2 linked regions of the Homo sapiens genome follow. The protein of the gene in region 2 purifies or fractionates together with the protein of the main gene of each other region. This does not show direct contact. Each region holds a gene or a part of one and is shown on either strand. Other genes may lie near its edges. The genes, in order: UBA7 and FBXO15.

Region 1 (3,432 bases), on a different chromosome or scaffold from region 2:
TGGAGGATTGGGGGTGGGGATGGCTGACGGCTGCTTCCTGTGTCTGACAGGTCCCAGCCTGGCTTCATAGCAGGAAGAGGGCTGGAGGGAGTCTTCAGGACTTCTGCACAGTCTGAGTTTCAGTGAGAGCCGGCAGCTAGATTGGGGCCTGTATGGGCAGGTGCAGGGGAAACCCAGGCCTAGTAGGGCTAAGGGTGGGGTATCATGGGCTCACCGTCTGGATGGCTGGGGCAAAAGGCATATAGCGGATGAGGTAGTTTTCAGCCAGATGTAGGTAGCTGTGGCGAAAGGCACTACGAGGCCGTGGCCCACTCACCACCTTATACAGCTCCAGGCCCAACAGGCCTGCCACAGCTGCTGTAGTGGTGGCAATGGCTGGGATAATCTGGCCCACAATTCGCTTGCTCTGCCAAGGACAAGAGATTTGGTCTGGGCCCAAGGCGTAGGGCCAGGGTTTGCCCTCCACCTCCAGGCCCAAGCCTCAAGGGGTGGGGTTACCTGGGCACGGTTGACCGGTGGAATCCCGTAGTTCTGACATCTCAGGCTAGCTGCCGCTACCACAAAGTCCACATGGAAGTTGCTGTCATCATCCTGTAAGGCCCAAGTCAAAGTAGTGTTAACACTGCAGCTGTGCCCCTCACCGTGGCCCACTGCGTGTCACTGCACAAGTCTCCACACAGTTCTGTCGGGGGGTTGCCCCACATCTCCTCTTGATCAGACAGGCTGAGGTTCAGGGAATGTGAGCTGCTTCCAGGGTCTTGCTGGGAGAATTCAGGCCAAGGGGCTCCAAAACTACCTTATTAGCTCCTGACCTTTCTCCACAAACTCCCCAGCCCCACTCCTCACTGCCACTTGGGCACCCACCTTCTCAAACATCAGAGGCTTCAGGGGAGGGCCCACACTCCAGACTTCCAGGGCTTTGTTCAGTTCCTTCTGCTGCTCAGGGCCTGTCAGGGGAGGGGATGTTGAGGCAGTCCTTAGCCCCTGTCTCCTGCACTCTTCTTGGAGCCCTGTGCCTATTCTTGGTCTTTGCCAAGCCTGTCACTTACTATTCCCTGATCAAATCAAGAAGCCCCCTTAATTAATGCTACAATCTCCCCTCTAGAAGCCCCAGTCTTCACCCATGTGTGCTCATGACCTCTGTGACCCTGTCCTCACCTGCAGGCCATAGCTAGACACTCCCCAGGAACCAATGGACTTTATTTATTTACTTATTTATTTTGCCAAGAATCTGCCACAAGAACTGGGATGTGGGGTAGGCAGCAGGGAGAAGACCTACTGAGGGACCAGAGGATAAGCCTGAAACTATGGAGGAGTGAGGTTAGGAGGCCTGAGAGGTAGCAAATTGGCTGTAGATCCCCTAGGCCCTATCTTCCTTCTGCAGCACAGGCTGAGGACAGGACAGGTTCAGGCCTTTGAAAGACAGCATGAGGGGCCAGGGCCAGGAGCCTCACCAAACTCAGCAGAAGCCGAAGCCAGCTCTAGATTACTAGCAAAGATGGGGGCCATCTGTTGGGGGTCAGGCTGTGGCAGCAGCTTCAGCAGCTCCCTGAGTGCAGTCCAGTCCTGTGAGCCAGGCAGCCCATGCATCTGGGCATACAGGTTGGCAGCTGCCAGTACGTAGAGGAGGTGTGTGTCCTGCAGCCAGACCAAGAGCAGGAACAGAGGCATGGGTGCATGGGGTGGGGGTCACTGTCCATTTGTGGATCTGTTTGAGTGCCTGCCTTTGCCTCACATGTAGACACCCATATATGCACAAGCATGGCTCTCTCTGGGCATCTGTGCATCTCTGCAGAATGCAGAAATGCCTACCTCTGCTCTGAGGGGCCACATCTCTATCTTGGAGCTCCCTACAGAATCCCACTCACTTGGTTGGTGTCAAACTCCAAGGGCTGGGGACACTGTTTGGGACCTGACCAGAAGGGAGTTCCATCCTCAAGCACCTAGGTAGGTAAGTAGAAGCTGCTGGGCTCAGTCTGGTCCCCCTGAGCCCCCAGCGTCCCAACCCCTAGCCACACACTTTATTAGGTGGGAAGTGCCTCAGCAGCTGTTTGATGCCATAATGAAAGCAGAGTTTCCAGTGGCCAAGAGCCCACGCCACACAGTCTTGCCAGTTCTGTGGACGCACTCTCAGGACCCCAAGCACTGGCTTCAGTAAGGTGAGTGTCTGTGGCTCATCCATGTCTGCCAGGGAAGTGTGTGCCCTGCAGAGAGAGGAGGAAGTGTGAGACTGAGTCCTGCAGACTCATGCTTGGAGCCCTGGACTCCCATCTGCCTCTGTTGGTGGCCTTACTGTTGGTGGTGGTTGATGGTCTCTGCAGACAGTCGGAAGAGTTCTTCAAACTCATGCCGGGCCCACTGTGGAGGAGGGAGGAAGAATGAGGTATCAGGTGGAGAACAGGTCTGCAGCTGAGGGCTGAGCTGGGTGGGGTGGGAGTCTCCAGGGTGCTTCCTACCTGCAGGGTGTGCTCGGCTGTGCTAGGGAAGTACCGCACGGTACAGACAGGGTAGGGGGCATCCTCAGAAGCTGCAGCTGAGGCAGGGGCTCTGTAGGCCTCAGTCACATGTGGCATGAATACTGTAGCACTGCCCCAGGTGCCCGATGTGCCTGCCTCCAGCAGTGGCTTCAGATAGTGGGTGCAACGAGCAGCCACATAGCGCCCTGGCAAGGGAGCAGTGGGTCAGAAGTGGGACTGGCACAGCTGTGGGCAAGGGACTGACCTCCGAAGTCAAGCACTCACGGGCCTGGAAACTGTCCAGGGCAGCAGCCACACCATCCACACGGGAGAAAAAGTTATCCCCATAGATGTGCTCTGTGGTGGGATCCAGTGGGTAGGTGAGCGGGATCACCTGTAAGTCTGGGTTCAGGCCCCGGGCAGCTGCTGCAGCCACCTCTGCCTTGGGTCTCTGGGAAGAAGGCAGGAAGATGTTGGGTGGGAAGCTGTATGGGAGGACGGTCTGGGATGCAGGAGTGTGGAGAGGGGTCAGCACTCACACCAACGTCCTGGGACCTGAAGAGGAACTGACGGCTGAGATTGGAGCGCTCTATGTGGTCCATGTCAACAACAGTCAAGCCCCCGCTGTTCCCGGCCCCCAGTCCCACTAGGGCAAAGACTTTGAGCAGCTCACAACCAATGGCACCAGCGCCCACCTGTTGGCAGGAACAGCCTTAGCCAGAGGGGCTGGGCTGGCTCTCCCAAAGGCACCCCCAGTCTCACCCCACAGCTCACCAGGAGGTAGTGCTGGCGTCTCAGTTTCTCCTGAAAACCAGCCCCAAACACTGCAATTTGCCCATCATAGCGGCTGCCTCTCTAGGGGACAGAGACGGGGTCAGTGATGGCTACTGGCCTGCATCTCCTTCTTATACTGAGTTTTCTGAATCAGGACCTGGAGGGCATTCCTCATGCTTCTCCCCTAGTCCTGATTTTGGAC
Region 2 (3,810 bases):
GTCAAAATAAAATGAAAAAGAACATAGTCGGCATGCATTACATACACTAAGCATAAACGTCATTTCATGAACGCTGCTTTCATTGCACATGAATGTGTGGTCTGTATATGCCCATACCGCAGTGGATATGTAAAAAGGCCTGAAGAGCACTGCCCATGGACCTAGCCCACCCACTAGCCAGCCCTTCCTTCTCCCGCCTCTTCCTTTCCACTTTAGATTTCACTGGCCTTTGCTGGAATAACACTCTTGCCAATGCACATACCTCCCTCACTCCCCTTGCAACACACCTTAGGGCCAGGTCCAGCAAAACCCCAGCCCCAGAGGAGCGCAGTTATTTTCTATCTGTCTGGACCTGAGCACCAAGCACAGCGGGAGGGCTGCACGCAGAGCTGCTGGGTGCCCATGCAGCTGCACCATCCTCAGCTCGGCCTGACGGTCCCACCCTGGCTCTCTGGGTGGCTCCCTCTCCGCCTCATGGAACAACACCTCATCCCCTCCCTCAGCCCTCTGCATCCTGCTAGGAGGGTGATCTCTGCAGAGAACCTCGGCCTTCACAGACAGGGGAGAAGGATGTTTTCCTCAACTTCCCACTGCAGATCCACAGCCCAGCTCCTCTGCGCCCACCTCTCCTCACATGTGTTTCTCATCTGCTCCTCCCGGGTGTGGCCCAGTAACCTCCTGCTGCAGCGTAGCCCATCTTGCAAAGGCATGATGTCCCTCTCAAGTGACTACTTCTGTCCTCCCATCAGCTTTTAGTCTTTAACACATTCAAGTAACTCCCATCTTAGAGAGGCAGAGAGAGGGAAACAGCCTCCCTGGGCCCCGCAGGCCCCTGCTCTTTCCTCGCTTCCCAGACAACCCTCTCCAAAGAGCTGTCTCCGCTGGATTTGTCCATTAATACCCATTCACTCATCAAACCACTCTGGCCTGGTATCCTTTTTCCATCATCTGACCGAACATCTCTTGATAAGGCCACTAAATCCAGTGACCATCTGTCAGTCTGCTTCTCAGCAGTGTTTAGTTTTTCAAGAGAACAGTGAAGAGTAATTCTACCTCTCCAAATGCATCCAGAACCCACAAGCCCTGCAGCTCTCTACCCACTCCCATTGCTGAGGTTCCTACAGCTTGGTCCTAGGCCCTATTTTCACTCTATGTAATCTCTCCCCATAAATGGAACTCATCTACATTCACATCCTAAGTTATCACCAACATGCCTGTGATTCCCAAAAGTTTATCTCCAGGCCGAACTTCTTTTCTAAGTTCAAGACCTAAATATTCAAGTGCGTACTCAACTTCTGGATCTTTCAACGGTCCCTCAAGTCCAGCAGGACTATGCCCAAACTCAGGACCCTCCCAGCAAAGCTCTCCTGGTACTCCTCGTCCCAGGGACTGGTGGAACCATCATCAGTCATCTGGCTGTGCATGCCTGAAATGTGGGCGTCCTTCTAGGGGCCTCCCTCCTAGCCCTGACGAGCCAACCATCACCCAATCCCGTTAGTTCTTACCTCTCTTTCGAATCGCTTTAATTTTGTCCATCTCCATTGCCACTGCCCTAGTCCAAGTGCTATGGTCTGAATGTTTGTGCGTCCCAAAATCCGTGTCTTAAAATCTGATCACCAATGTGACTGTTTAGGCAGTGCGGCCTCTAGGAGGTGATTAGGTCACGGGGGCAGAGCTCTCATGAATAGGACTGAGGTCCTTATAAAAGAGGCCCACAGAGCTGTCTCACTCCTTTTACCAGGTGAGGACACTGCTAGAAGGTGCCTCTAGGAACTAGGAAGAGGGCCCTCACCAGACACCCATCTGCTGGTGCTTTGACCTTGGTGCTTCCAGCCTCCAGAACTGTAAGAAGTAAGTTTCTATTGCTTAAAAGCCACCCAGCTGATGGTGATATGTGATAGCATGCCAAGCAGACTAGGAAACCAAGTGACTGCTCTTCCTTTAAGGAGGCAGCCATCTAACTGATCTCCCCACTCATTCGCCATATTCAGAAGACAAACCTTTACAAAACATGAGTCTGAGCATATCACCCTGAGACAACTTTCCACGGCTCTCAAGAAAGAACCAAATTCCTTCCGGCTACCATTAAGGCCTGACCTGGCCTCATCCGCCCATCCCACCTCATTGCACACATCTTGCCATCTGTGCTCCAGCCACACTGACCCTTCACCCTTGAACACACCATGCCCCCAGCTGACAAAGAGCCACCCAAGCTCCCCTGCTGAGAGATCCTCTTCCCATCTTCTCTTTGTCCATCTCAGCATTCAGTTCGAATACCAGTCCCTTGAGGAAGTTTCCCTGATACTCTCATCTCAACTGACCATGTACCCAATGGGCAGAAACACCAGTGTGTTGAATGCAGAACTTGATACAGCTGCAGTGCTGAAACTGACTCGGCCCGGCCAGTGCAGGTAGAGATGGATGCTAAGCACCAAGAGGGCAGGACTTAGGCCAGCTTGGTTCAGCATCGTGCCCCTGGCCACCTGCATATGCACACAGTCACTGAAGCTCAACCACTATGTGCTGAATGAATGAATGAGTGTGATAAAATGAGAGGGAGGTGGTAAGAGTAGTGATGGAGGTGCTGGTTGTTATTAAACACTAAGGTAGGACAGCAGGAGCCCTAATGCATCAGGGGCAGCAAACACCAGGAAAGAAGAGATGGGTGAAGAAGCAGCCAGCATGAAACACACTAATCCCTGATGGGAGAGTGCACGCCAGAGCCTAAGGCCCCTCACATCAGATGAGCTACACAGTGAGACCACCCAGGAACCCCTCAGACACCTGACCTTGCTCCCTGATGCCTTTCCCAGGCAATCGGCTGCAGTGGTCCTGGAACAGCAGCGACCAGCCCCACACAGCCTGTTCCACAGCACCCACTGCTTCCTGCATGACAGGGACCACCACACACAGAGCCTGGGCTGCGAGGAGGACACCAGAGTGGGGAGCAGGTGGGGAATAAGAAAAAACACCCTACACTGCAGCCTCACTGAGGCTGAGAATGGGGGAGTTGAAGCCAATACTGAGGGCCAGCAGATGGCTCTGTCTTTGGCAGGCAGCCGGAGCCCTCCTGGAATGGGCATTACCACTGTGGCCGTTTTAGAGAGAAGGCTCTGAGGTCTAAGCACCTCTGAGATAACACAGCAGGTGGGACTGCATGGTGCATCCATCTTCCACACCCCACCACCCTGCACGACCTTAGCCACTGGGCTAGCAGTCACTTGACTGTGTTACTTACAACCTCACCAAACCCACCAGCATAGAGATGGTGGTTAGATCCTATGGGAGGAAGGAGGTGGAGCCCTGGGTCCCATCACCTGCGAGAAGGTTGAGGAGGAGAAACCCTGGCAGAAGTCAGGAAGGAGCGGCCGGTGGGGCACAAGGGCTCCTTGGTGAGGACGCTGCTCACAGCCCTAAGCCGTCGGTGGGTGTCTCAGTCTTTCTGCTCTCCCACCTCCTCTGCTGCCAGATCAAGAGCTGGGAGCTGACTCTCCTCTGAAGCCCTCCTAGTTCTCAAAGTCCAGCATTCTCCAATTCCCTCCTAACCTAAAACATGGCCTAGCACACGATAGGCACATCAAACTCTTTAACAACATCCACAGATACACCAAAATCCAAATTCTTTCCTGAGGGTTTCAAGGCCCCCCCCCGACCTGCCCCAGCAGCCTTTCCAATGCCCCCCAGTCACTGTCCCTCCTGTCCCCGGGTGCTAGCCCACCCCAGGCAGGACAGCCAGCTAGGAAGAGGCCCGCCTCAGCACCAGCCGCAGCGGCACAGTGGGTCTCGCACCCCTCCCCGGGCCAGCTGCCC

Evidence for each region.
Region 1: the proteins of FBXO15 (region 2) and UBA7 purify together in Homo sapiens (affinity purification with western blotting, with the first as the bait; one study listed by BioGRID). This does not show direct contact.

Annotation. Positions count from the first base shown.
Region 1 is NC_000003.12:49,807,522-49,810,953, forward strand, and holds part of UBA7 (ubiquitin-like modifier-activating enzyme 7), read right to left. Parts: intron 3,312-3,432; coding exon 3,231-3,311; intron 3,152-3,230; coding exon 2,996-3,151; intron 2,908-2,995; coding exon 2,742-2,907; intron 2,663-2,741; coding exon 2,457-2,662; intron 2,359-2,456; coding exon 2,294-2,358; intron 2,205-2,293; coding exon 2,021-2,204; intron 1,944-2,020; coding exon 1,869-1,943; intron 1,639-1,868; coding exon 1,455-1,638; intron 948-1,454; coding exon 865-947; intron 592-864; coding exon 499-591; intron 407-498; coding exon 215-406; intron 1-214. UniProt on the Homo sapiens protein: E1-activating enzyme that catalyzes the covalent conjugation of the ubiquitin-like protein product of ISG15 to additional interferon stimulated proteins (ISGs) as well as other cellular proteins such as P53 in a process termed protein ISGylation.
Region 2 is NC_000018.10:74,074,689-74,078,498, forward strand, and holds part of FBXO15 (F-box only protein 15), read right to left. Parts: intron 1-3,810. UniProt on the Homo sapiens protein: Substrate-recognition component of the SCF (SKP1-CUL1-F-box protein)-type E3 ubiquitin ligase complex.